Homo sapiens: one gene and its partners. The protein of the gene in region 4 interacts with the protein of the main gene of each other region in a biochemical or structural test. Each region holds a gene or a part of one and is shown on either strand. Other genes may lie near its edges. The genes, in order: SLITRK1, OMG, GPC4 and PTPRS.

Region 1 (7,091 bases), on a different chromosome or scaffold from region 4:
GCGTTGTAAGGCCCATTGTGCCAGTAGGAAGAGTCACAGACTGTCTGTAGGGAATTAATCTCGGACGCGGAGGAGTTGGCATCTCGTCTCTTGGACCGCTTTCGGTTCCTCAGGATAAACACGAGCATGCCCACCACGGTGAAGGCGGAGGTGACAAACACCAGCAGCAGTCCCGGGACCAACACCGAGATGGACACCCTGCTGGTGTCTAGGTAGGAGTTGGAGTGCGTCCCGGTCTCCGCCAACCCAGTGCTGTTTTTACTGTGCGAAGTTAACGTGGGCGAGATCCTAGCGTACAGCTGAGGGCAGATCTCGTCATTGGAGAGGAGCATGAAATCCTTTCTAAAGAAGTTCACCGGCGTCTCACACTTGAGGTCGCTCATCAGCACTTCGGAACCCAAGCGTTCTGCCCACTGCTTGAAAGGCACAATTGTGCAGGAGCACTCCCAGGGGTTTCCGTGGAGGTCTATCTGGATGATGGAGGTTAACTGGTCCAGCACCCCTGCCACCGGGAGGTACATGAAGTAATTGTTGTGCAGGCTGAGTTTAGAGAGCGAGACCCCAGCGAACACGTCCACAGGCAGGGACCTCAGCAGGTTGTTGTTGAGAATGAGGATCCTCAGTTTGGGCATGGCATTGAAAGTGCCCGGGAGGATGAGCTGGATAGCGTTGTACTCCACGTTCAGGTACTCTAGGTTTTGCAGCCCCGCGAATTTCTCCCGGGACAGCGTGTCCAGGTAATTGCTATCCATGTATAGCCACCTGAGGTCCAAAAGGTTCTTGAAAGTGTTGTTCTCTACAGTAGCGATGTTATTGTTGCCCAGATCCAACAGAATGAGGTTCTTGTAATCCACAAAGTGCGATTTTCGGATGCTGTGGATCTTGTTATCTCGTAGGAAAAGCTCCTGCACGTTAGAGAGCTTGGGCTTCAAATCAGCCAAGCTGCTCACGTTCCTGTTGTTGCAGTTCATCTTTAAACCCGACCCTGGGATGTGGTCGCAGCTGCAGCCCCCAGGGCAGGGTAAACTGTTAGCTAAGGGTTTGTTCCTGGAGCTACCCGTCGCTATCGCTGCTGTGGGTCTGATTTTGATCTGCCAGTTGCCTGGGATCTTTGTACCTCCGTTTGGAGCAGACCCTGGTGTGGCATGATCCTCTTGCCCATTTGTCTTGAAAGGAGTTGGCAGGGGTCCAGGAGCAAAGGTCTCTTCTTGGGCAGGGGGCGCCGGGAGACTAGAATCCACTCGGTTTTTCAAAGGACACAAGTCCTGTTCGGTGGTTTCATTGAGGTCTTTACCCTGCAGTCTGGTGGGGGCTTCGCAGACCACTCGGCCGATCAGGGCATTCTTGGGAATGTTTTCCAGCCATTCTTTCAGGGAGAGCAGATCACAGGTGCAGTCCCAAGGGTTATCCTCTAGCAGGATCTCCGCAATACCAGGGATTTGCTCCAAGACCTCCTCATAGGGCAGCGTTTTCAGCCTGTTACCCCGGAGGTCGAGGTGGGTGATGGGCACATACTGGAACACGTTGGCAGGTAGGGTGCTGATGAGATTGTCATTTAAAATGAGCACCTCCAGCTTGTTCAAGTCCTGGAAGGCCCCCGGGTCTATATCTCGTAATAAATTAAAATCAGCCTGGAGATATTCCAGATCGTCCAGCCCCAGAAAAGTCTGCTTTCGAAAAGACTTGATCTTGTTGTTGTTGATGTGCAGCCTTTTCACCAGCTGCAGCCCCAGAAAAGCCCCCGGAACGATTTCATGCAAGCCATTGTTTTCCATGTGCAAACTAACCGCATTATAAAAGTTAGCGAACTCATTAGGGAAAAGTCGAGTGAGGGAATTGCCATGCAGAAATAAATGGTAAAACTGGGAAGTCGGGGCAGTGAAACGCTGCAGACTTGTGAAGCCCTTTTTTTCACAGTCTACGTGTAGGTCCCCTTCTATCTCATTGCAGGAACAGATCTTCTCTTTGCAAACGTCCCCTGTAACGTTTCCAGCGGCAAAACAAAGAGACGTCTCCAGCAACAGAATCCAAAGCAGCATTTTTAAAGCGAGCAATTCATCCCCGATCTCATCACAAAGTAACAGCGACCATCCTGCTCGCCACAGACACAATTCAAGTTCATTTAGTGCTCCAATGTCCGAAGCCAGGAAAGGAGAAGAAAAGGGTTTGGGGGGGTGGGGGTGGATTCCTTCCTCCCTAACCCCCCCGCACTGCAATAGCCCAGACGCCAGTCAATAATTATATCCACAAACTATCCAGGCACGTAGTGCAAGGCAAGCAAAGAAAAAAAAAAAAAAAAAAAAGTAGGAAAAAAACCCCACTCCCCCACAACACTTTAAAAATAACAGAAAAAGAAGTTAAATATATACATATAAATTAAAAGTACACCCTTACAGAATCTCATCTACTGATCTTCACTGATCAGAAATGAAACAATGCTAGTAATTAGAAGCAAGTGCATGTTAGAGAAACAAGCAGAGGGTTTGCAGCGTAGTACAGGCGCACTGCCTGTGCATGGCTGTGCGTCGGACTGACCTTGCCTCTCTGATACAAAGCAGGGTTTTCCGCGGCTTCTGTTGTTGAGGCTGCTGGTGGAGTTCTTGCTGTGGTTGCGGGTTGCCCAGAAGTCCCCCCGAGGTGCTGTCCAGTTCCCCCGGTGCTGAAATCACGCCCGACCGAAGGACTCACGCTGCCCAGCCAATGGCGCTGGAAAATTTCCGCAATCGCTGCGTTTTGTGGTTGTCCATCCTTTTCCTTTCCTCCCCTTCGGTCCTCTTAAGGCTTTTTTTTTTCTTTTCTGTGCTCTCGCTCTCGCTTACTAGCTCTTCTTTTCCTGTTCTCCTTCTCTTTCTTCTGCTCTTTCGGAATTACGTGGAGGGGGGCGGAGGGCGGGGGGCGAGTTGTCTGAGGGAGGAAGAGAGCGCGAGAATGAGGGGAGGGGGGCGGAGAAGAGAGTTGCTAAGAAGCTCTGCTCGTTCCAGCCTGGTGCACTCTGAAAGATCTGACACCCTCTGCTGATCTGCAGTAGCAAAAATCCATCTGGCTAGGGAATGCTGAAAGAAAAAAAAATCAATCCACGTACAGGGCAAGCGTTAAAAATGTGGGCATAAAAGGCTGACGATCTACATAGATGCTTATTTTAAATGGATTATTTGATTATTTTTGCGTGCTGGAAACTTTACCCTTTCCTTTCCTTAACGAGTTCACAGCCCCCACCAGCTCCACCATTCGGAAAGGAGTGCTTTTAAAACATTTATTTCCCAATGGCTTGAATAAAATTAGTGTCAGGGTGTCAAGCGAACAGCAATTTGAGGTAATTATACTGCACGCCATTTTCATCGGTTCTTTAAATGCATTTCTTCCTTCTCTGCGGCACAGTGTTTTACGCTATTTGATGTCTTTGAAACATTTCTTTTGGTATGTTCAAAGTGGCTTTCGGAACATATATGTTACATAATATCATAATTGAGTATGAATTTTTTTGCAAGGTATATAAATTAGGCATATACTTTTTAAAACTTGCAGAAATTTAGTCAATTTGGTCATTGAGAGTTAGGTTCTTTGATATTTCTTGAATGTTATTTAACTCTGGAGGGTGAAACACAATGCATGCTGAAGTCCTTGATTCCAGTCCCGAAAGCTTTAACTGAGAACCGGAAAAGAAGGGAGAGGGGGCAGGGAAAAATCCCAAGATGATTTGTGAGTGCTGTTAAAAACCCACTGGCAGGCAGGCGCGCGCACACTACACGCACGCACACACACACACACACCCCACTGACAAAGTTTTCACATCAGTTTGAACTAATTTAAATGTTTACAAGTAAATAACCAGTTGCATTTTGAGAGGAGGAGATAGAAATCTCTGGACTCTAAAGCTCAGCGAGAACGCTCTCTGCAGGTAGCCGGCAGCTCCTCTTCGCGCAGATGCTTGTTGGGTCACTGATGCTGGGGAAACACGAAGCTCAGGCTTTTTCCAGTTAAGGAAACAACAGATTCCAAACTCTGAGCTTATAAAAATCCAGTAATATCACCTTCTGGGATGGAAGAAAACGTGAACATGCTGCTTCCGTGAAGCCTCTTTTGCTGACTTTTCCTTTCAGAGTCGACACCTTTTCACATCAATACGTCCTAAAATATTTATAGATCATTTTAGGATTTGAAATTTTTAGGTCTTTTAAATAGAGTTACTGTTTGGCCCTTTCTTCACTCTATGCAGAGAGGATATGTTTACACCACTTGCCTTTTTAATTAGGTCTTTTGCAAGTTGGACAGCTGCAACGAGCTTGCTAATATTTTGTGCAAAAGAGCAAATGTTCAAGGAAGTGTGTATTTTGAGAAAGATGGGGAGTAAAAATTTGGGGGAAAGGACTGGGGTTGGGAAAATTCCCAAGGCTAGGGAAGGTCTTAAAGATGTTTACAAGATTTTTTTTTCTGGGTCAGAATCTAATTTCTAGGTGGGTGGAGAAAATTTCATATCTATATACAATGTTTTCATATGACAAAATATTTTTGTTGTATTCCTCTGGTGAAATTCAGTGAAGGGAGGTGGGGATGAAGACATTTCAGTGTGTGTGTGTATGTGCATGCATGTGTGTGTTTGTGTGTGTGCACGTGTGTACACTAGAGAGATCTTTTTTAGACATCCTGATACACTTCTGAAATAACTCTGTTCTCATTTAATTTGACCCATTACCACATGTAGAGAGTGAAAAAAAAAGACCTTAATCAATTTGAAACCATTATGCTAAAGAAATGCTATGCAGTTGAGAACTGCAGATGTGGAGGAGTTCAACTGAAGGAAATCATTTTTCTGTTTCTTCTTAAATAGGACTCAGGTCTAAAATATCTTGGCCCAAGAAACCACTCTGAGAAAGGAAATCAGCCTTATGGTGTCTGTGATTAATAGGGTTAGGCAAGACTCAAGGAAAACAGAAAAATGCTGGCTGTTTAGAAAGGACAATCATCTAAAACCCACATTTTTAACCTTAAAAGGTTACATTTTTTTTCAACTTACAGAATATTATCTTTATGTGAAGAGACTCCAAGAACATATTTAAGTTGATTTAAATGAATTTAGATAACCTACAGTTTGTATTCAGATTTCATTCTCCTCTTCACCCTTTAAATTCTGTATCTTTCTCTCATCCCTTATTTCTTCTTTCCTCTTAACACACCAATCACAATAGAAAATTTACAGTTAGGATTCTCCTATTTAGGTATCTTACAAAATTTTTTAAATTATATCCTCTTCAAATAATTTCTTATCTCTGCACTCTAAGAAAAAAGTGTGGTAGTTCTCAGATGAGCAACTAAACCTGAGAAGAAAAGATTAAGATTATACCGCCTATATGAAGATCTCCAATACAAACTTGCAAGCAAAATATAGAGGTACACATGTAAGTCTATTGAAATGGACCCTCTATAATAGCTATCATAATATTTTCATAATAAATATATTTTAGAGACATAAAACGGTCTAGAAAACCACACCTACAACTTCAAAGCCTAACTATTCAAGTTAAACAATAAATTTATTGGTGGAGAATAAAAATATAAGGGATTTATATGTGATCTAAACATTTCTAATACCTTAGGGGAATATTTCTTAGGCATGAATTTTTCTTAAAAGGGTTCCACGCTGTCTATTTGAGCTCAAGTGAACTCCTTCAGTTGCCTTGCCTCTCAACAGATAATCTCAGTAGCTGGAGATAAAGGATATTCCAGATGATGATGATGATTGATAATATTTGCTCAGGGCTATAGTTTAATTTCCTGGCTGTGACCAGAAAGATTTCAATTGTGTCATTAAATGTTCACACATTTCTATTCTTCATCAAACAAGTTCTCCTCTCAAACAAGAAAAGGTGTATGTTGATTGTTCAATAAAGAATTTTTCAGACTAAGAAGAAATTTGCCAGTTAATTATCCATTTTTTCCCAAATGGCATCAAGTTTCTAGATATTTCCATATGTGCACTACATTTTTAAAATGAAAAAGTAGAATTTATAACTAACTTTTTTTATCCAGTTTATTTAATCTTCACAATAACTTTAAAAATTACTGTTCTAATTTTTAACTGTAAAAGTAATACTTTGATTTAACAAATACAAAATTACATATAGGAAGTCTATCTTTACTCTTCCCTCATCCACAATACTTTTTATTGCAGAGAACTAAAGATAACTGGTTGGTTAATAGTGAATTTGATCCTATTTTATGGATGTGGAAACTGAGGCTAAGTAACATTGACTAATTTACCAAGATTAAAAAATATCATTTGACTTTGTTATGGTAACAAAGCTACAGACTCCTGAACTAAGCTTTTATTCTACTAAGTCTCTCTTTGTTCTTAATATACAATGCCATTTATGACCCTGGTTAAGCTTTCTGTGGATCAGTTTCCTTACTAGTATATTTAACACATACTAGTATATATTATAGTTTATGATTTTTTTGGTCCCTTCACGTTGCTTTTTTCTGAATCCAAAACACTTTAAAAATGATTTTACAACAGACCTAGTGTCTCTTGCCTTCCTTAGACTTTTCACATTTGAACTCAGGATAATTGTTACCACATTTAATATTTACTATGATTTGAAACCAGTAATAAACAGTATAACCACTGTAGGAGAGAATTCATTAGTCCTAAGTTTAATCTACTACTGTCATAAGATAAAGGGGTCATTGTGATTTTTTTCATCTTGAGATAATAATTGTAAACTACAAGACAGGGTTATAAATGAATTGTACCTATAAACAAATATGCTTAGAATGTAAGATTCTCACACATATTTTCATATCTTATTTTTGTAGATTGTAATATTCTAGGAATTGGGTGCTACGATAATGAAGATATTACACAATTTCTGAAGGTGAAGTTAATACAATATTTTTATAGTATTTCTTTTATAGTATATTGCTTTTTAAAACTTAGCAACTTTTATTTCTCATCAAAGAAATAGCAATCTCAGTAAAACACATCAAAATGAATGTACAGTTTTACTTTGTGGCTTAAAGTATCACTGTCCTATGTTTATATCATTTTATATTTTTTATTACTTTGGGCCATAGGTTTGGCTATGAGTTTCTCA
Region 2 (7,819 bases), on a different chromosome or scaffold from region 4:
GTGTGTTAAATCTGCACTAAAACTGCTTCTTTACATGTTTTTAAATTTTTTCATTATGTTTTTAACACTTTTCTTACATGCAAAAAACACAACCGTTAAACTTTTCTTATTAAAATGCAAAGCCTAGTGTCTTCTAGCTTTTTGAAGAGCTTTTGTCCATTATATAATCTGTCAAGTAGCCAAGAGTTCCTCAGAAGCAGGACATCATTTAGATTTAAAACAATTATGGCTTGTCTGTAAAATAATGTTGTAGCATAACCATTCATGGGATGGCAGCTACGATTTTACTTCAGTAAAATATCCTTGGATACTACCGCCATTTTATTTACCTTAAAGATTTTACCAAGGTACCCTAGAACAAAAATGGTGAGGTCATTTTGATTCTGCTAAAGTTGGTATGACTGGAAAGCCAAATGACACAGTTATGAGCATAGACCTTTTATTTTCCAGATGTTTGACAGTGTAAACATACATAAAATACATATTAAAGTTTAGATGCTTTATATTTTGTGCAATAAATTGAAGCCTTAAAACATTTCATTTTTTTTATAAAAGAAACTCATTAGTTTACTTAATTAAGACAGTAAAATAGCAGCAAGTACCAAGACATTGTGCATTTCTTTTATTTAAGACAAGTTACTTCATTTACATCAGAGTTAGAAATGTTAAGACTGGCTTTCTTGAATACTTAAATATAGCTCGAATCACTGGTTAGATATGGACATATTTTCCCAACTGTACATCAGGGAGGAGTGCTTTCATTAGTTTCAGAAAATGCAGACCCTCAGACAGCCAGCATGACCACAACATTGAGCAATAAGAGAAATGAAGCATTTACTTTCCAAGCATTTGCCACAGAAGGTAATGGAGTCTTTACATTTGTGGTTGTCTCTTCCCTCCATAAGTTAAGGGTTGTGCTTTGTTGAGGCATTTCAGAGAAATTATTTGGCATGCCACTAGTGATACTTAGGGTCATGGGTGTTGGGGATGATTTTGTTGAGCTAGTGAGGCTTGTGTTTGTGACCATTCCATCTTGGAGATGAATAGTTAGAGTTGCAGCTGCTGCTTCATGTGAATTGATAGTCTCTGTGGATGTATCTTCTGGATAGGGCACAAAAGCCTTATCAGTGCTAGTAAAGGTGGTGTCTTTGCTTAGAGTGGCACCAAACGTTGTTTCCTTTGTTCGATATTGTTTGGGTATTTTGGTCACTTTGGGTTGAGTTACCACACTCAGAGAGTTAATGGTGTCCACTGTCTGCATCCCACTTACAGTGAATAAGCTTGAGGTAAATCCAGAAGGTGTGGGATACATGTTATGTTCCTTTAAAGATGATATTTGGGTAGAACATGGAGTCCCTATCACATGGGCTTTTGTTTCCATCATCCACTTCAGTAAGTAAGTAATGTTTTGTTTGTGGTCACATGACCACCTGTTATTGTAAAGGGTTATCTCTTGCAACTGAAAGAGTTGGTCAAAAGATTGGTCTGGAATGAATGTGAACTTATTGTTGTGCAGGTAAAGATGTGTGAGATTTGTCAGGTTTATTAATGTACCTGGAAGAATTTGTGTCAAAGAATTATTAGACAGGTCCACGATATGTAGTTTGGAGGGCATGTTGGTTGGAACTGTCCAAAGTTTGTTACTACTGAGGTTGAGAACCTCGAGACTTCTTAGTGTATTTTTAATGAGGACAACCTTTTCCAGCATGTTCTTAGAAACATCCAGATATTTAAGATTCCACTGATAAGCAGTATCAGATTTGTCAAGAAGTTTAATGTTGTTGTTAGCAGCAGACATGTTCCACAGAGACCGAGGTAAGTGAGCAGGCAGGCTTTCAAGCCTGTTGTTTGAAATGTCCAGGGTCCTCAGATTGGTATATTGGGTTAACTGGTTATGCAGATCAGTAAAGTGGTTATAAGACAGGTTTAAATGTATAATATTCTCTTGCAGTCCAGATGGTAATGTAGACAAGTTTCTGCCTGAACAGTCCACATGCCTGTGCCTCTCTGTGCATATACATTGGAGAGGACAAATGCATAAAATACCAGGTGTGAGAAACAGAAGGATGAACAGGCAGAGAGACATTTTCAATATCTGATATTCCATCAAAGCCTAGAAACAAACAGATACACCCTTCTTTTAATATGCAAATACAGTTTAGGCATCTGCATGGGTCAGTTAGCATTAGGCAAAATTTTCAATAAACCTCGTTGTTGTCGAGTCCTTTTATAATTGTTCCAGTGATTAAACTAACAAAGCTCCCCTTCATTTATAGTCCAAATGCTTAATCCTTCAATTGGGCTATGTGGTAGAGAGAGACTCTCTCCCTACTCTCTCCTGCATTTTCTCCTTTATTTTCTCTCTCCCTCCCCCCTTTTCTAACCATATTCTTTCTTATTTATCTTTCTAGAGCCTTAATATGATAAAATAGCATTCTTTGCAAATAAATAGTTGCAGTTGTAGGCTATTACTATTTTTGATGATATGCTTTCTTACTCAGATGAGAAAAAATGGCTGTCGTGTCTTTTTTTTTTAATCTCTGCAGTAATGTAATTCAATGTGTGTATATAGGGTAGATTTTATTTAGATATTAAAGCAGTTCTTCGAAATTTTATCTGTATGTTTTTAGGATAAATATATCTTTGTAAAAAGCACTTGAAAAATCCAGACCAACACAGTACCTATAAACCTCACATTTTATAAAGTGATTTTTTTCTGTATATTTCAGTGCCCATTTTAAAGGAAAACAATATGTATATTTACAGAGTGACTGAATGTATAAAAAATATCCCTCAACTGACACTGCAGCAAATTTCTGGTGCATGCACTTGCTATTGAATATATATTTAATCCTAACGTTGACTTTTTCTTAAAAGAAAAAGGAAAAAGATTCCAAAGTCAGCCTTTTACTGATTTAAATAACATCTTACCGTGGTGTCGTCTTCAACATCAGCATCTCATTTTCTCTGGGAAACTTAAAGGTCGTCTTGTTCTGTAGAGTCGGAACTGTTTCTGGCTGTGGGCTGTGCTTGCCTGCTCAGCTGCATTGTGTTGCTGTGAGCTGAAGCTCTGCAACCACCTGATCAGTACCACATAGGAGGACTGCAGAGCTGTCGCTGGTGCTGACTCAAATTTATGGCAAGAGGTGCACACGCAACAAAATGGACAATTTTTTAAAAAATTTGTGGCATCAAGCGTACCTATATATCTGATTTGCTATAGGATGGGATACCTTATGCATGAGAGTTGGCCCTTACTCCTTTCTATGTATTTGTCTGAGATTGGGTTCCATATTTTAACATTTGCCTCATTAAGAATCTGTGAATTTTTAAAATACCTCTACTCTTTATCCTTTTTACATGTTGAAAATAAATTTGACCTTCCTCATGGATAGTTTTCTATGATATTAGTCCCACTATTTTTTAACTCCTGCCTTTTTATATTCCTTTCTAAAATTGTATAATTTTCATGTCACTTTTTTAATATTATAAAAAATCTGTTTTATGACTTTTATGTCTTCCCCCAACATGGTGATTATTATGTTTAATCAGCTTTTCAAATTTATCAACCACTTAAGTGTTCCGTCTTCCCTTTTAGGATGTATAGAAGTACTGAAATACGATTATTTTTTCTTTATCTTTCTGATACAATGATCATTTGACCAAGGCTACACACAAGCCAGGATACATTTGGAAATTAGCATCTTATACTTCAGATTATCAGTTCCTATGTAAAATAAACATGTTTTATTTTATATATTTGGAGTTAAAGTTTTTTTTCTTTATGCAACCTTGGGTGGTAAGTGGATATGAGTATTGTTTTTTCCAAAGACATTTTTGGTGCTGTATGAATGACCATTTATTTGATTTTATGTTTTAAGAATAGCAGTATCAATTTAGGTGATTTCAGAGTGTTGCACATTTCATCTTTCTGGGAAAGTAGTTTATAGTTTTAAAATTACATGAAATGATATAAAAGGAAAATTTTTCATCATGAGTTTTATAAAGTGAGATCAGATTTATGATAAATTTTGCTCCACTCTTCAGTGGACTGCTTGTGTAAATCTGTTAAAACACAAATCTGATTTCCAGAATGGCAAGTTTAAAGAAAGCAAATAAAGTTACGGTATTTTCGTTACCAAGTGGCACCATTTAAAAACGAGTAATATTTAGCATGTTATGTGTAAGGAAAGTCTCTTTATGCCTTGTTACTAAATCGTTTGTTTTTCTCTAAATTATATTAGCATTATTTAGATTATACCACAAATAGAATTTGTTGTATTAAAATTTGAAGTTTATTTTCTTACAAGAGAAACTATACTCTAGGAGCCACCTTTTGTATAAAACTAATGTTCCTCGAAAAGTATCTGCATTTTAAGAGTCCGCAACATAGAAGTTTATTGTTGATTGGGTGCTTTATTGCCACTTTACTTTGAGGGTTCAGTTGAACTCTCAATTGGATTCTTACTGTGGATTTAGGAAACCAGCCATCAATCATAGTGCTTAAAATAATGTGTTAAAAATACTACATTCAGCAATATTGTGGAAATAGGGAATGCATTGACATTTAGAGTTCTATTTAAGCTCATATATACACTGCTGCACTTCTAAAGATGTGACTGAGGGTCAATTTACCGACCACTTAAATCTCTTAATTTTAGGAAACCTCATTAAGTCAGTGTAGAAGTAGAGTTATGCATTTTCATTACACTTAACAGTACTTTTGTTTGAAAGAAAAGACATGTTACTTCATTAATGGATTCAAATGAATTTGGGTTTAGGCTGTATCAAGTTTAGTTTCTGTTGTATATAATAGAAAATTCCAGTGCAATAGTAGTGGCAATGTTTCTCATTTCAAGTTTGGGACATACCAAATTGCTTCATATTATTCAAAGATTATTGTAAAATTCTCAAAAAGAAAAAGGGAGATCATTTCAATATATTTGAATTCTAACAATCTCTTACACTGGGTGCAGCACACCAGCATGGCACATGTATACATATGTAACTAACCTGCACGTTGTGCACATGTACCCTAAAACTTAAAGTATAATAAAAATAAATAAATAAATAAAAGAAATTCTCATGAAATAAAATAATACTGTATTACTGTTACTCAAAAAAAATATTTTTTAGAGGCATAAGTATGTGTTACAACTTATTTTAAATATTATTCAGACTCATTACATTTTCTATTAGGCTGTCTAGGTCAGTAATGATAGTTAGGCAACTTTTACATTCTAGATTAAGCAGTAAATTAATTTACGTATTCTTTTGTGTCCTAGGATATATTACCCCAACATTGTGAAAGGTATCACAAAGCATCTGCCAAGGAATAGCTATCCCACGCTAATCAGTGGTTTCAGTTTTCCATTATTATAGGTAACATTTGCTATGCTTGAGAGTCAGATATTGTTTATTTTTGGTAATATGGTTGGCTATTTAGACTGATTTTCCTGCTGAATACAACTGAGAGTACTCAATAAAGTACTTTAAAAGCATGAAAGAAATAACAACATAGAAATTACCAAGTCAAAATCCAAATGAATCAGTTTCTTTGCCCACCTCCCTACTCCTTTTTTTCTTTATGCCACTGGCTTGTTGCCAAAACTCAGTCAATTATTTCCTAAAATGTCTCTCATCTTGGAGTTTTCTCTTTGACTCTTTGGGAAGATTTAATTTGTTCTTCTGTCCCCCATATTTTCTATAAGTGATTCCTCATATCATTGACATAATTGCTCATTTGCATCATCTCACAATAATTTCAAAATAATACCAGTATTGATTGCTACAATTAGATTATAGACTACCGAATAAAGTTTAAAATTTGTTTGTAGCTCTGCTTGCTTTATTTTACTAAAAGTGTATAGTAAATTCTGTGTTCTAATGCAATGTGAAATAATTCTTTTCTGTGTATTTTTATATCACCAACTTGATATAAACTTTGTTTCAGTTTTCAGCTTTTCAGGATCACAAGTCAAAATTATATATATAACAATGTATATTCAGATAAATCTTGCTTCTCTGTCTTTTCCATCCTATTTCCTTCCTTCTGCTATTAGTAACTGTTTTTATTAGTTTTTCGTTGTATCATTAACATTTCTTTTTGAAAACCTAAAAAAAATGTAAGCATATGTATGGTATGTTCTTATCCCCCCTTCTAATATAAAAGGTGACATATATACATACTGTTAGATAACTTGTTCTTCTTTTCTTACTGTATCTTGAGTATCACTCCATATCAGTATATAGGTATCTGTATGATTCACTGTTTGATCCATAGTACTCCATTTGGGAATGTACCATGGCTTATTCAACCAGTCCCCTATTGGTGGACATCTGGGTTTTTCAGACTTTTGCTGTTACGAATAATGCCACAGTGAATACCCTTGTACCTAAATAATTTTATATGTTTGCCAGTAAATCTTTGAAAAAGATTCCTAGAAGTAGGATTGCTGGGTAAAAGGGTAAATGCATTTGGAATTTTTCCAGACATTACTAAATTCCTCTCCATTGATTATACCATTTTGCAGTCCCACCAACAGTGTATCATGGTGTCGAGTTCTATACAGCCTCACTGTATACTTTGTTGTTGAACTTTGGGATTTATTGTCCATCTGATAGGCAAGTATCTCCATCTAATTTTAAATGCATCTCTGTAATTATGAGGGGGAGTATATGTCTTTACATATGTTTAAAGACCATTTAAATGTTTTCTCCTGTAACTGTCTTTTTAATGTTTTGCACTATTAAAAGTTGTGTTTTGGGTCTTCCCCTTCCTGCCCCATATTAGGAGCATTTTAAATTTTAGAGGTATTAGCACTTTGTCTTGATTTAAGTTTTAATTTTTTTTTCCAGTTTGCCATTTGTCTTTTGGCTTTATTATGGTGAGGTGTGTGTGTCTGTGTGTAATGCGCACTTGCATGTGTGTGATATTTAAAAGTTTCATATAATTTGATTTCCCTTTTTATTGCCTCTGGATTTTGAGTCTCAGCTAGGAAGGTTTTTTCCCGCTTCCAGATTATAAAGGAATTTACTCATATTTTCTTCTATTACTTGTATAATTTCATGGTTTATATTTAGAACTCTGGTCCTTGGTGTTCCAATATAGTGTGAAGTATGGATCAAATTTTTTCTTTTTTCCAGATGTCTATCCAATTGTTCCAATGCTTGTTTCCACTGATTTGATATTTATTTCTGGACTTTTTCTTCTGTTCCATTGATCTGTTTGTTTAGTCATATACCGGTACCACAGTGTTTTAGTTATAGGTTCCCAAAGGTGCTACTTTACTTTTTGATCAGAATTCAGTAAGAACAACAGTTAAAGATCACCCTCATCTAATTCATTTGTGTCCCTCACCACTGACACCAAATAGAAGACTTATGTGATATATGTATGTTTCAGTGCATGATGTAGGTGCTCTTTGGTCCTATATTAGTGAAAAGAGTGTTGAACCAATAGTCAGGGAGCAAACTCAGCTTTTAATACCACTTCTAAGCACATCACTTACTTTCTCTGGTCCTGTTTTCTCAGTAGTTAACAAACAAAAGGAGTTGAACCAAATGGTCTTCAGGGTTGTGTCTGACTCTGGTTAATGCTATTTTGGTTAAGAGCACCACTAGTATGTGGTGTGAACTTTAATCTACCTTTTATTCCCCTGTGCCTTATTCTTTTGCAGTATTCATGAAATAAACTTTCTCTTCTGGATCTTAGTTCTTTAATCTTTTCTCTAAAAGATTTTTCTTTGTTCCAGCATTTTCTTCTGTCCTGCATTTATTAGTTTGTATCTCTTCCTGCTGATTAAGCAAGGATTGCCAC
Region 3 (7,026 bases), on a different chromosome or scaffold from region 4:
GTAATGAAATATACTAGTGCCCTCGATGATTATGGTTACAAAGGTGGCTTTGAGCATTCGCCCATTCTAGGAGATCTCAAACTGCCAAGATCAGCAAGTTCTGGCTCTCCCATTCAGCTTCTGGTCACCCTCCAACTGTCCTCTCTCACTTCTTCCAGATGTCAAGTCTTACCTGCCTCTAACACGATCCCTTCCTGTGATTCCCATCGGCCCCCAACCAATACCATTTGCTACTTCTAATCTGCCATAGACTGGGAAACTGGATAACCAAAGCATTTTATCTTCTCACGTATAAACCCTATCTACCTAATTTGAATGCAAGTTCCTCAAAAGCTTGATTCCTGCTTGACACCTCTTGGAATCCCCTGCACCCAGCATACTGCTCTGGATACAGGAGCCATTCAATGATTGCTGATAATAAATTTCTGAAGGCCTTTTCTCCACATAGAATGCATGGGCTTTATGACAGCTGTTTCCATCATTTGGCTTTTCTGCTTACTTCCACATTCCCAGCTGTGTTCTGGATGGTTGCACCAGCTAGAAGCCTAGGGATTTACTGTACTTCTATTTCTTGATAAGATACTTGAAGAGAATAAACACATGGCAAAGAGGACATTAAAGTAAGGGATAAAGAGATTTATTTTAATTTTACCAATAAAGAAAAAGGGAAGAAATATCACCTAGCATGTTGACACTTAATCAATAAATGACAGCAAGGCTGGATTCTGTTCTAATTCTTTCCAAAGTATTCTCATTGTGCTTGTCTTATGTCTCTACCTGCAGCAAAGCAGCACTCAGTTGTGGTTCACACTTATATCTTGATTGAAAACATTTTCCTCCATGTTTGACACACCTTTCTCTTAAATCCAAGTTAGCCAAAATTAAAACAACCATGCACTGATTCTAAACTAAAGGCTTTATCTCAAACAACATTTTGTGATGAATCTCATTGGAAAATTTAGAATAATAGAATCTCAGAGATGGAAGGGACCTAGGCCAGGCATGCTGGCTCACGCCTGTAATCCCAGCACTTTGGGAGGCCGAGGCGGGCGGATCACGAGGTCAGGAGTTCGAGACCAGCCTGGCCAACATGGTGAAACCCTGTCTCTACTAAAAATATAAAAAATTAGCCAGGAGTGGTGGTGTGCTCCTGTAATTCCAGCTACTCAGGAGGCTGAAGCAGGAGAATCACTTGAACCCAGGAGGCGGAGGTTGCAGTGAGTGGAGATCATGCCATTGCACCCAGCCTTGGCAACAGAGCAAGACTTCGTCTCAAAAAAAAAAAAAAAAAAAAAAGAAAATTAAAAAAAACTACCATGGGCCAGGCACAGTGGCTCACGCCTGTAATACCAATACTTTGGGAGGCCAAGGTGGGTGGATCACTTGAGGCCAGGAGTTCAAGACCAGCCTGGCCAACATGGTGAATCCCCATCTCTACTAAACATACAAAAAACCAGCCGGGTGTGGCAGCACACACCTGTAGTCCCAGCTACTCGGGAAGCTGAGGCAGAAGGATCGCTTGAACCCAGGAAGTGGAGGCTGTAGTAAGTTGAGATCACGCCATTGCACGCCAGCCTGGGTGACAAGAGCAAGACTCCATCTCAAAAAAAAAAAATACACACACACACACACACATTCATCCATCCATCCATCCATCCATCATGGCCTAGTCCTTCCTGAAAAAAGTATTATTTCATTGGTATGGGGTGGTACCCAGGCATTAGTATATTTTAAAAGCTCCTCAGGTGCCAGGTGGTTCAATTTCACCCCATTTTTCAAAGAGGGAAGAACCTCACCAAAGGTATTTGACAACAAATTTGCCAGAGTTAGGCTAGAACTACTCATCCTAACAAGCCATGTCTTCTCCATGTAAACTACTCCATCTACAACAGTGGAGTCTCTTCCCTCCCTCACTCTCCCTCTCTGTCCAACTATCCCCACCTATCTCAAAGTAAATATATTTTCTGAATATTCTTTGCCTTAGAATCCCATTGCATAATTTTTAAAAACCTAAATGATGTATGTCTGCTTCCCTGTATCCTCATGCTTTTTTTTCCACACAAAGAATCCCGAGAGATCAATCAGGCATGGTTTACCCTTAAAGAAGCCATATTGCTTCTCCCTAGATAGGTTGGACTCAACCCACCCTTTTCACCATTATTATCACACATGCCATCTTTCAAATCCCTTGCAAGATTCAACTTCAATTCTCTGTCAGCCCACTTAATTTCTAGTTTGTACCTGGGCCTTGTGAAACCTAGTGGACTTCCCTCTTCTGGCTTAAACTCTTTGTATTTTGTGAAAGATGCCTTTTTCCCTGAAGCAGCCTCTTTTACTCTGCCAGTTAGTCATGCCGGGTTCTTTTTTTCTTCCCCCGAGCAGTTGGTCTTTTTGATGTCTGGCACACATTTATCTGGGCTTCCAATAAGATGTTTTTACATAGTTTCCAGGCTTCCTGGAGGTTATTGACTTTTTTAACTCTCCCATTCAGTTTTTTCCCCTAATTTCTAACATTTGTTAGAGTTTCTTTCTCAAAAGTTGAATACCTGGCTGATGCAGCTCTTTGATTTTTCTCTCCCACCAGATTGCTGAATTAAATGCATCAGAACTTAAACATAATATTTCAAATTACCTCCAGGATGGAATCGCTTCATGCATTTTCTGCACTTTCATGTTCTCTATAGTAAGCAACAGATGTTTAACCAAGTAGATTTGAAAATGCTAGTTTTTACCTGTTTGTATTTTAGTATGTCTGTTTATTTATATAAAATATTCTGATACCCTTCAAAGCTTGTGTTCTTCTTGGTAAAGACAATAAACTTGAGTTTTTTTATGTTAAAAGGTAACTGATGCACACTGAACAGTTGCATGTGGTAAATTTGCTCTAAATTGCCTAATCACAACAGTCTCAACTGTTCATTCTTTAAAGAAGTGTATCTCAAGGCATTAAGAAAAACAATTCTGAATCTTTCTGAAAAATTCCTGGCCAGTGCAGTAGCTCATGCCTGTAATCCCAGCACTTTGGGAGGCCGAGGTGGATCACCTGAGGTCAGGAGTTCAAGACCAGCCTGACTAACATGGAAAAACTCCATCTCTACTAAAAATACAAAATTAGCCGGGCATGGTGGTGCATGCCTGTAATCCCAGCTACTCTGGAGGCTGAGGCAGGAGAATGGCTTGAACCAGAGGCGGAGGTTGCGGAGAGCTGAGATCGTGCCATTGCACTCCAGCCTGGGCAACAAGAGCGAAACTCTGTTTCAAAAAATAAAAAAAAATCCTATAAGCATTCAGTTATTAATGAAGTGGTAAAGACAAGTACTCCCCCAAAAGAATAAAAACGTTCTCCAAGCTATACCAACATATGCATATTTACTTTAAATTTATTTCACTTCAAAGTGTTTAGATACAGGCCTGGAATGGTGGTTCATGCCTGTAATTCCAGCACTTTGGGAGGCTGGATCATTTGAGGTCAGGAGTTCTAGACCAGCCTGGCCAACATGGTGAAACCACGTCTCTACTAAAAATACAAAAATTAGCCGGGTATGGTGGCACACGCCTATAATCCCAGCTACTCGGGAGGCTGAGGCAAGAGAATCCTTTGAACCCAGGAGGTGGAGATTGCAGTGAGCCGAGATCACGCGACTGCAATCCAGCCTGGGCAACAGAGCGAAACTTCATCTTGGAAAAAAAAAAAAAAAATTAGCCAGGCGGTAGTGGCTCATGCCTATAATCCCAGCTACTCTGGAGGCTGAGGCAGGAGAATTGCTTGAGCCTGGGAGGCAGAGGTTGCGATGAGGCAAGATCACGCCACTGCACTCCAGTCTGGGCAACAGTGAGACCCTGCCTTAAAAAAAAAAAAAAAAAAAAAAAAAAAAAAAAAAAGTGTTTAGATCCAAAAGATTCCTAGGAGATCAACAGACCATGGAATGACAATCTATCATCAAGGCAGTATAATCTCATTGTAGCACTAGTGTCTGACAGAGAACACAATAGAATTGGCTATGTTATTCTCCCACTTGTTTAACAAATATTGCACTGACCTACCACACTTGGTACTGCTACCCACAGACAAGACGAGGAGTTGTCATCTTTGCCCTCAAGTTGCTTCCAGTTGAGAAGACAAACACGTACCTGCACACACAGTTAACTATAATACAAGGCAGTTATGTACAAAGACCATGGACTGGTTCCAACAGGGAATTAGGAAGAAGTGGGCACATAACCCTGGAGAGTTCAGAAGTGACTCAATGAAAGAAGTATCATTTGAGATGCTTGGAGCCACTGAAGCTCAAAGCACAGGAATAACTCTAATCAAAGCAGTGATGTAAGGAAATTAAGCTGGCGATGTTCAGGATAGAACAGGGATTTAGGAGGGGGGGACAGACAAGAGGCAGGTAGACCAGTTAAGAACTATTTAAAAAGAGTCTGCTGACAGACCTCCCTGTCTTTATCTCTTGCCTCGCCAACCCTTAACCCAAAGAGCCACTAGTTATCTTCCTAAAACAGCTTGACTGACGACATTCCCCTCCCTCAGAAACCCTCATTGGCTCAATTGTATTGTCCAGGAAATACAATTTATATTCCTTCTACCATTAACACTAGATTGTCTATGTCTGGGTTTGACATTTTGTCTACAAAAGATGTGACTGGATCCTCTCCACTATAACACGAAAATTGTGCCGTTTTGATGATGGTCTGTTACTAGTTAGCTGAGGGTCCTCCCATACTTTATATCTCAACAACCTCTATGGGAATAGAGAAGGTACTTTCTTGTCTTACTATCTGTACAACATAGCATGAACTATACTCTAGAACAGATAAGACCTGGGTTCAAATCCCACCTCTGTTATTCATTAGCTATAAGATTGTGAACATATTTCATAATCCCTTTGAATTTGTTTTCTTGTCTATAAAATGGAGATGATAATTCTGATGTCATATGGTTGTTGTGGGTTTTAAATGAGACAATCATGTAAGTTCCTTGGTATAGGGCCAGGCCCAGAGAAAGCATTCAATAGCTACGAACTCTTATCATGAGGCCAAAATACATTTTTAAAAACATAAATAAGAAAAAAACCTCAGTGCTAAAACAGTTAATGTCATTGGGGAGCCAGAGAGACTCACTTCCAACTGCCTCAGATTAACGCCAATGTTGTTTCCCTTGTACACATAACAAAAAACTTCCTTTTTCATTCCTCAGTCTAGTCTCCAGTTAATCCTGAAATTGCATGCAACCCAACGTGAATCAAATAAAAAAGGAAAACAGTAATTATGCTGAATCAGACATTTTATATTTATATGTTCTAACCAGAGACTGAGCTGCATAAGCCAGAACTTTAACTAAATTCTTTTTTGAACATGTCCAGAAGATACCTCCTGTAAACTACTTGGGACAATTTCTACAGTGATAGGCCCTGTGGCTCAATTCGACCCTCCCCAAGTGAAACACAGAGCCAAATTGATGATTCCAACAAAACAGGAGATCACAGATTCATTGCAAAATCCAACACATTACTTACGGTGGGGAAGGCGGAATACAAATCTTAAAGACACATGCTGTGTGTCATATATAATCAACTCACTATTAGAAAGTATTGCTACCTCTCCAACACACATACACACGTACTTTTTTTCCACGTAGTCATAACAGCTTATAGGAGTCCTGGAATCCTTTGTGCATGTACATATGTATGTGTGTGTGAGCACATGATCATAGGTGCATTGCTCATGAACACAGAAGGGAACAAGAAATAAAAACTCCAAAACTGCAACTAGGGCACAAAGTTCTGAGTATCATTCAATGTCATTGTGAAGAGGACCTTTGGCAAGTTCATGAATGCTTCTAACCCACTGCCTCACTCTTAAAAACAATTTCAACATAGATGAGTAATAAAATGCCCATTGTTGCATACCCTTTACCTTTGTCTTTATGGAGGGAGGCATAATGAAAATGGTTAGATTTTTAAACTTATCTTCATTAGTATTTTCATTTTTACTAGTGAACTAGCTTTACCCAGTTAATATTCTATAGTATTAGAGTCCTAAATCCCTTCTCTCTTTGAAATGCCTGGGCACTCCCTTCTCGTCATCTGTATCGCTTGTATGGCACTTATCACCACTGTGTTGTATTCTAATTTTGTGTGTGCGTGGCTTATCTCCTTACTAATAGGAAAGGTCCTGGTGGCAGAAGCCCCTCCTGCCTTTCTTGCTGTCTCCACAATGCTGAGCAGAGGATACTGCACATAGTGGGCGCTCCAAAAGTACATGGCCATTGAAAGCTGAACAAAAACATAATCTTTGTGTTAAAGATCCCTTTTGATCATGGCACCTGGACTCAGCATTATTTGAAAAGTACAGGGGTCAAGCAGACAGGCAATGCAGGACCTCAGTTGGAAGCCCTGTCAGCATGATGTACTCCCTGACACCCTTGAGAGCACATCAGATGATCCTAACTATGATCTATAAAGACTGAGACTCCTCCAGAACATGGAGTATTCTTAAAGCCTGTTCAAACCTCTAGAAGGCAAGTGCAAGGCCATCTGGAATAAAACATTAAACTTGGGCTGAGCCTGGGGCTCAATGAGCTAGGTACCCAGACTTTGTGATACTTCACCTGGAAAATGATCCTGGGTGTTTTGCACTGAAAAAAGCACATTCCCCATCCCAGGCAAAGTGCCTGGCAATTAATCCATCCAGACCTAGGCTGAATACAAGTCACTATATTGACTATCCCCCTTAAAAAATGACCAAAATTATCTGAGTGTAGCTCAGAGAAGACAAGGCTAATGTATGCATCTGGAGAGGCCAGGGTGATGGTAAAGATTACGCCTGTTTCTATACTGGCCGTCTAAAGGTATTTACTTGGGTCTGTCTGTGTTGTGACAGTGTCCTAGACTCAAATGAATGCCTCTAACACTCCACATTTTTGAGCCATTCAGTCATGCATTTTTGTTATTGTTGAAAGTGGTGCGAAATTGCACTGCATGAGCTAAAGTCCTTGGTGGTCTTCCAAGGATTCCAGCTAAA
Region 4 (6,831 bases):
CACGAGGCAGCCCCTACAGGACCAGGGCTTGGGTTCAAATCTTGGCCTGGCCACTTCATCGGTGTTTTGAGTTTTTTTTTTTTTTTTTTTTTTGAGACAGTCTTACTCTGTCACCCAGGTTGGAGTGCAATGGCATGATCTCAGCTCACTGCAACCTCTAACTCCTGGGTTCAAGCGATTCTCCTGCCTCAGCCTCCTGAGTAACTGGGATTACAGGCGCCCGCCACTGCGCCTGGCTAATTTTTGTATTTTTAGTAGAGTTGAGTTTCACCATGTTGGCCAGGCTGGGTTTCACCATGTTGGCCAGGCTGGTCTCAAACTCCTGACCTTGTGATCCACCCGCCTCAGCGGTGTGTGGTCTTGGACAAGCACCACCACCTCTCTGGGCCAACTCCTCCTCTGACTGTTCACACAAGGAAACGAGATCAGCTCTCCAGGACCCCACCGACCTCCACCCCAGGGATGAAACTGGACAGGCAGGGGCGCAACAAAGACTCCACAATGGGCCGGGGTCAGACGATCTTCCTTTAATACAAAGTCGATATATCTACATACACGGGGGTGGGAAAACCACCCGGCTGCTTCCGCTGGAATAAACAGTGTTGAAAGTAACCGCAGACCTGCCCTTGTACAAAGAGGAACAACTCGCTTGCTCAGGGTAGGCGGGTAGAGGGGGGCCTGTCCTTCTGGTTTTGCTCCCAAACTGCCCCACAGTCCCAGGGGGAAAGGGTCCCTGATGTGGGGCAGCACAGCCATACAGCCACTGTCCCCGAAGAAGTAGGATCCTCTCTGTCTCCTTGGGGGCGGGAGACGGGGAGACAGCTCAGGCTCTCAGAGGAGGACCACTGTCATCTCTCTCCTCTTACAGCAGCGTCCCCCTCAACCGCACCCAACGCCACTGGGTCCGAGCTCCCCCATGACCTTACCCTCAGAACTGTATTTGATATGTCTGAAAATTTAATTTATAAAAATGAAACAAAAAGGGGGAAAAAAAAAGCCAAGAAAGAAAAAAGGACATCCCATTCTTCTGTGAGCAAAGCACACTTTCTGATGGTAGGAAAAATTAAAAAAAAAAAAAAAAAAAAAAAAGCCAAGGTACAGCCATGGGCCTGGCGTGCGCGTTTGCGAACGTAACTATCACACAAGGACGCTTTCTACAGTGAAAAAATAGACTGTCTTTGAACAGAATATGAATAAGCCAAAGTTAGTTCTCTTTGAAAGTCATTGACTGGCGAGTCTTTTGTTTGTTTCTCTTAAAAAAAAAAATGGAAAAAAAAATACACTATTTAAAAAAAATGAAATGTCACGGGATACAGTTACACTGAGAGTTTTAAAAGAAAGCTGGATTCTGGTCCCAGCCCAGTGTCCCCAGGCTGCAGAGCGGGGAGGAGCCCCCCGGGTCCCCCTACCACCGCTGGGGGAGGACGAGGGGTCCGTCTATGGTCTGTGCCCCACCCTCCTCTGGTTCTGGGGAGCACTCCTATTTGCTCACCATCCCCCCACCCCCCACCCCGGAATCTGGTTTTGGAATTGGAAGGAAAGGAGGAATGTGCCAAGTATTTGAAGGCGGCGGCCGGTGCCAGGGAGGTCGCTGGGGCGGCCGGGGCCGGTGGGGGGGCTCGAGGGGCTGCGTCGTCCTCGGAAATGGTGCAGAAACACAGCTGCTGCCGCTGCCACCTCCTGCCCTGCCCACTGGGGGTCCAGGCCTCAGGAGGTCCGCCCGGGAGGGGCAGAGGCATCCGGGGCCAGTGGTGTCGGGCCTGGGGGGAACCATGGCTTTAGGTTGCATAGTGGTCAAAGCTTCCGAGGTACTCCAGTGCCGCCTGGTAACAGAACTGGTACTCATCCTGGGGGAGCAGAGGTGACCTGTTAGTACCTCCGCTGCTCTAACGCCTCCCAGGGCTCCCTATCGCCCTCAGGAGCAGGCCAAGCTCCTCAGCCTTGTGCGTGTCTCTTGCAGAAGGTCTCTTTGGCCCCCACGGCCCTCCCACAATGAAGTGAGCTATGCCACACCTCTCTGCCTAACACAGCCAGGCTCTTCACCCGGAACGCCCTCTCCTCCCGTCTGCCTGGAGGCCCTATTCATCTTTTCTTTTTTATTTATTTTGAGACGGAGTCTCGCTGTGTTGCCCAGGCTGGAGTGCAGTGGCGCCATCTTGGCTCCCTGCAACCTCTGTCTCCTGGGTTCAAGTGATTCTCCTGCCTGAGCCTCCCAAGTAGCTGGGATGACAGGCGTGTACCACCATGCCCAGCTGATTTTTGTATTTTTAGTAGAGACAGGGTTTCGCCATGTTGGCCAGGCTGGTCTCAAACTCCTGACCTCGGGTGATCTGCCTGCCTTGGCCTCCCAAAGTGCTGGGATTACAGGCATAAGCCACCACACCCAGCCTCATTTCTATTTTTTTTGTAGAGATGGGGTCTTTCTGTGTTGCCCAGGATGGGCTCAAGCGATCCTCCCACCTCAGCCTCCCAAAGTGCTGGGATTACAGGTGTGAGCTGCCACGCCGGGTCCCCTCTACTCATCTTTTAAGACATGGCTGCTGTTCAGAACCCCCTCCACTGGAACATTCCCCTTGAAGCTAGGAGTCTGGGCCTCAGTTTCCCCATCTGTACATTGGTTGGACTTGGGGGTCAGTGGTTCTTGGCAGGGTCCAGGCTGAGCCACAGACTTGCTGTGACTTGGGGACTGCAATGAGCCCATCTCTGTCCACTCCAAGGGCCACTTCTCGCCTTTGACCTTCAGCTGACTGTTGTGTTAAAAGGGTTACTGGTCCCCTTCCAGTGCGGGAGGGGTCTGTGGACCGTCTACCCACAGTGACCCAGAGAGTCCCAGGTGGCTGTACCCATCTCACAGAGGAGGAAACTGGAGCTTAGGGGCAGTCGGGGCGTGAGGCCAGGCTGCCTCCCCTCCCTGTCCCATCTTTACCTCTGTCTGCACCATGGCCGGCCGCTGGGTTCGTAGCATCTTCACCGTCTGAAAGATGTCCACCACGCCTTCATACCGCATCCGCTCCAGCACGATGCTAAGCGTGATGAAGACGCCCGTCCTGCCCACGCCGGCACTGGTGGCAGTAAAGTGAGCACAGCCATTCAGGGGCAGGTGCTGGGGAGCCCTGATCTGACCACCCGATTCCCCGAGGACTCTAACAGCCCAGATGGGACAGCCTAAGCTTGGGGCTGTCCCCACCAGGCCTCAGTTTCCCCAGCAGGGCCAAAAGCTGGGACACTCGAGGGAGCTCACCTGCAGTGGACAGAGATGGGGCCGTCCTGGCCAAACTGCTCCTTAGTCTTATGCACTTGGCCAATGAAGTCGATGAAGCCCTCCCCCGACTTTGGCACACCCTGTTCCGGCCAGTCTGTGAACTGGAACTGCCGGACAGTCCGGGACTGGCCATCCTAGAGTGCAGAGAGCCCAATCTTGTTATCAGGTCAGCAGCGGCCATGGGGGTTTTTCTCCATCCTCCCTATCTTCACCCCCATTTTTTGTTTGTTTGTTTGTTTTTGAGATGGAGTTTCACTCTTGTCGCCCAGGTTGGAGTGCAATGGCGTGATCTCGGCTCACTGCAACCTCCACCTCCAGTGATTCAAGTAATTCTCCTGCCTCAGCCTCCCGATTAGCTGGGATTACAGGCATGAGCCACCAGGCCCGGCCCTCACCCCCATTTTGTACACTCTCTGCCATTCATTTACCCTGACAACTTACCGTCCTTCACAATCCAATGGTACTGCTTTCCATAAGAGATGCTCCAACCTCATCCTCACCACTTCTTGCCACCCAGCTGTTCCTCTCCCCACATTTCCTGTATGACATCCAGCACCTCCATCCTCCATCCTTTGCCATCCCATAGTGCAACCAGCTCTGCCCTTCCCAGCTCCTATTCACCATGATCCTCTGTCATCTTCCACTCTGTGCCATTTCGGGGCCCTACAGCACAACTCAACTCCATCACTGTCCATAGCTCATCAATGATGACTCATCTTCTACAACCCAATGGTGCCATCATCTTTCATCGTCCACCATCCAACACCATCATCTTCCACCATCCAATAACAGTGCCACTGCTACCACCCACTGCTGGTAACTCACTACCTTCTGCCGTCCCGAGTTCCACCCAACACCATCATCTTCCATCATCCACCACCATCCCCTCTTGGTAACTCATCCTTAACCATTCAGTGATGGCATCTTCCACTGACTGTCTTCATTCCCCACTACTCAACCATTCCTCTTTGCAGTCTCCTTTCCTACCACCCAGTGGTGCCATCCAACCACATCATTCTCTGCCATCTTCCATCCTTCACAACTCAATGGTGCCATTTTCCACCATCCATCACTAACAATTCATCACTCTCCACCATCCAAGGGTACCATCTTCCACTGACATTCTCCATTCCCCATCATCTGCCTTGTTCTAATCCCATCCTCCACCATCAAAATGGTGCCATCCAAAATTGTTATCCTCTGCCACCATTTGCCATCCAATGTACCATCTTTCCCTGATGTTTTACATTTTCTAAAATCTCCTTTCCCAACCCCATCTTCCTCAATCTTGTACCACCCATTGGTTTATACCATTGACTATTGTTTACTGTCCTTTCTTAGTCCTAGTATTTCCCATTGATTTTCTCCACCCCCTGCTGGCCAAACATTTGCCCTTCTCCAATTCTGTCTTCCTCCATCCATCACTGATAAAGCATCACCCTTCACTGACCCAAACTACCACATTCCACTGACATTCTCCATCCTGTTATGCGAATGTTCTTCTCTCCAATTCCAGATTCCACCCCTCCAAGGGCACCATCTTGCACTGCTCACAGCACAATGCCCGGTGATTGCTGTTCATTCAGCAGCCTTCACCATCCTTTGGCATCATCTTGGCCAACATTCCCCATCCTCTATCATCCCCTCACTGCGTTCTCTACCATCGTCGATCTTCCACCACTAACTTTGATCCTTTGTCACCCAACAGGGCCACCTTCCACTATGAGTCTTCATCTGTTGCCACCTAATACCTGGCCTTTCTCCCTCCACCTGACACTGCAGTCCTTCATTGAGCCAACACCATCCATACTCATCTCTCCTCACCCAACGGTGCCAGTCCCCACCATCTGACTCTCCTTGTCCACCGTCTACCACCCCTCACCCTCAATCCCTCAAGTCCCTTTCAGCCCTTTAACATCATCCTCCACAGGTGGCTGCTTCCAGAGGAAAGCCCCATTCACTTCCTTGAATATCATCCCCTGGGGCCATGTTCCCTAGTGAGTGGAGACACTGCAGGGTCAGCACAGAGATAAGACCCTCTCTTCCACCTATGTGGCAGTAGAAGCAAGTGGCCAACTGGTCAGCTGACACTTCTCCTGATTCCCAATGCTTATGCCTAACCCTTGGCCTTTGTATCCATCACCAACCAGGGCAGCCCTTTCCAGATCACTAAGGCTCCAGCCCCTCCCGCCAGTCTGTCTCTTCACTCACCCGGGCATCTGTGACCTTGAACTCTCGCAGGATATACTGAGGCATGTTGTATTCTGCCATCGGATCTACCACAAAGTACTGGTAGCGGGCAGAGCGCTCGGCCGGCCAGTACTGGTGACACTTCTCCTGTGGAGGAGATGGCGGCCGTGGTCAGCGCTGTCTGAGCCACAGTCTGGCCCTCGCCCTTCCCTGCTGTGGCCCCTAGCTCACCCGGCCCATCTCCCGCAGCTTGGTCAGCATCACCACGATCGTCGAATTGTTCTCCCACAGCATGCGCCAGAAGTCTTCCGTGGTCTCCGCCAGCGGCCCCTGTGTCGCGATGTAGGCCTTCTGCTGCCTGCAGGCGTTGGGGGTATGAGCCCAGGGCCGGCAGGGAGACCCGGCGTGGTACTCACCTGATGCTGCCCGGGAGGGTCAGGACCAAGCCAGTGACAGCTACACCTACCACCCCACTGCCTGCCAGGAATGGCTGCTGGGTGCACCACTTCCCCTCCTGGTGATCCCATTTTGCATGTGGGGAAACCACCAGTCTCATGACAAATTCAAATCCCTTGACAAAGCTGCGGGACTATCCACTAACCTCTCCTGATTTCTTCCCTCCATCTCCTTCAAGGGCCACTGCCCTACTTTCAGTTGCTTGCGTGGGCCAAGCTCTCAGCCCCGGGCCTTTGCACATGTGGCACCCTCTGCCAGGAACACCCTCCCCTCCTTTGCCAGGATTTCTCAATCTCAGTGCTATTGACATTTGGCGCTGGATTGTTCTCTGAGACAAGCTGTTCTGTGTACTGTAGGATGCTGAGCAGCATGCCTGGTCCCCACCCAGGCAGTACCAGTAGTACTCATGAAAATAAGAAATATCCTCAGGGTGTCAGAATTACCCCAATTGAGAACCACTGATAGAACAGATGGAATCACATTATGGACAGCAGCCATCAGTTAAACACACACCCAAAGATTCACGGACAGCAGCCATCAGTTAAATATACATCTAAAGATGTGTATTTAAACAGCTCAGGGCTACCAGTATCTCCCCAGCTCTGTCTCCCACAAGACTGGAGGCCTCTTGAGAGTAGAGATGGGCTCCTTCTGGGGCCCTGAGGTGGGAAAGGCATGGCACCTACCTGTAGCCATCAATGAAGCTGGCGTTGATGTAGTCAGAGCCCTCCACACCCCGGATGGGTTGCAGACAGACCCGTGTGCTCTCATAGGGCATGATGTTCACCAGGCGGTTCTTGAACTTGTTACAAGGCAGATTGGCACTGATGAAGCGTGACGTGTGGGCCTTGGAGTTAGCCAGCCGCTGTGGGGAGGAGGAAGCCAGAGGCCACCATCAGGATGAGGAAGGCTATGCTTTCAGC

The links.
Region 1: the proteins of PTPRS (region 4) and SLITRK1 form a complex in vitro, tested with the Homo sapiens proteins (one study listed by BioGRID).
Region 2: the proteins of PTPRS (region 4) and OMG form a complex in vitro, tested with the Homo sapiens proteins (one study listed by BioGRID).
Region 3: the proteins of PTPRS (region 4) and GPC4 form a complex in vitro, tested with the Homo sapiens proteins (one study listed by BioGRID).

What each region holds. Positions count from the first base shown.
Region 1 is NC_000013.11:83,879,469-83,886,559, forward strand, and holds the start of SLITRK1 (SLIT and NTRK-like protein 1 precursor), read right to left. Parts: upstream 3,007-7,091; 5' UTR 2,536-3,006; exon of another isoform or gene 2,093-2,535; 5' UTR 2,040-2,092; coding exon 1-2,039. UniProt on the Homo sapiens protein: It is involved in synaptogenesis and promotes excitatory synapse differentiation. Enhances neuronal dendrite outgrowth.
Region 2 is NC_000017.11:31,294,225-31,302,043, forward strand, and holds OMG (oligodendrocyte-myelin glycoprotein precursor), read right to left. Parts: upstream 3,016-7,819; 5' UTR 2,932-3,015; intron 2,114-2,931; 5' UTR 2,108-2,113; coding exon 785-2,107; 3' UTR 423-784; downstream 1-422. UniProt on the Homo sapiens protein: Cell adhesion molecule contributing to the interactive process required for myelination in the central nervous system.
Region 3 is NC_000023.11:133,405,474-133,412,499, forward strand, and holds part of GPC4 (glypican-4 precursor), read right to left. Parts: intron 1-7,026. UniProt on the Homo sapiens protein: Cell surface proteoglycan that bears heparan sulfate. May be involved in the development of kidney tubules and of the central nervous system.
Region 4 is NC_000019.10:5,204,996-5,211,826, forward strand, and holds the end of PTPRS (receptor-type tyrosine-protein phosphatase S isoform 1 precursor), read right to left. Parts: intron 6,774-6,831; coding exon 6,595-6,773; intron 5,811-6,594; coding exon 5,684-5,810; intron 5,600-5,683; coding exon 5,474-5,599; intron 3,397-5,473; coding exon 3,242-3,396; intron 3,063-3,241; coding exon 2,927-3,062; intron 1,848-2,926; coding exon 1,779-1,847; 3' UTR 513-1,778; downstream 1-512. UniProt on the Homo sapiens protein: Cell surface receptor that binds to glycosaminoglycans, including chondroitin sulfate proteoglycans and heparan sulfate proteoglycan.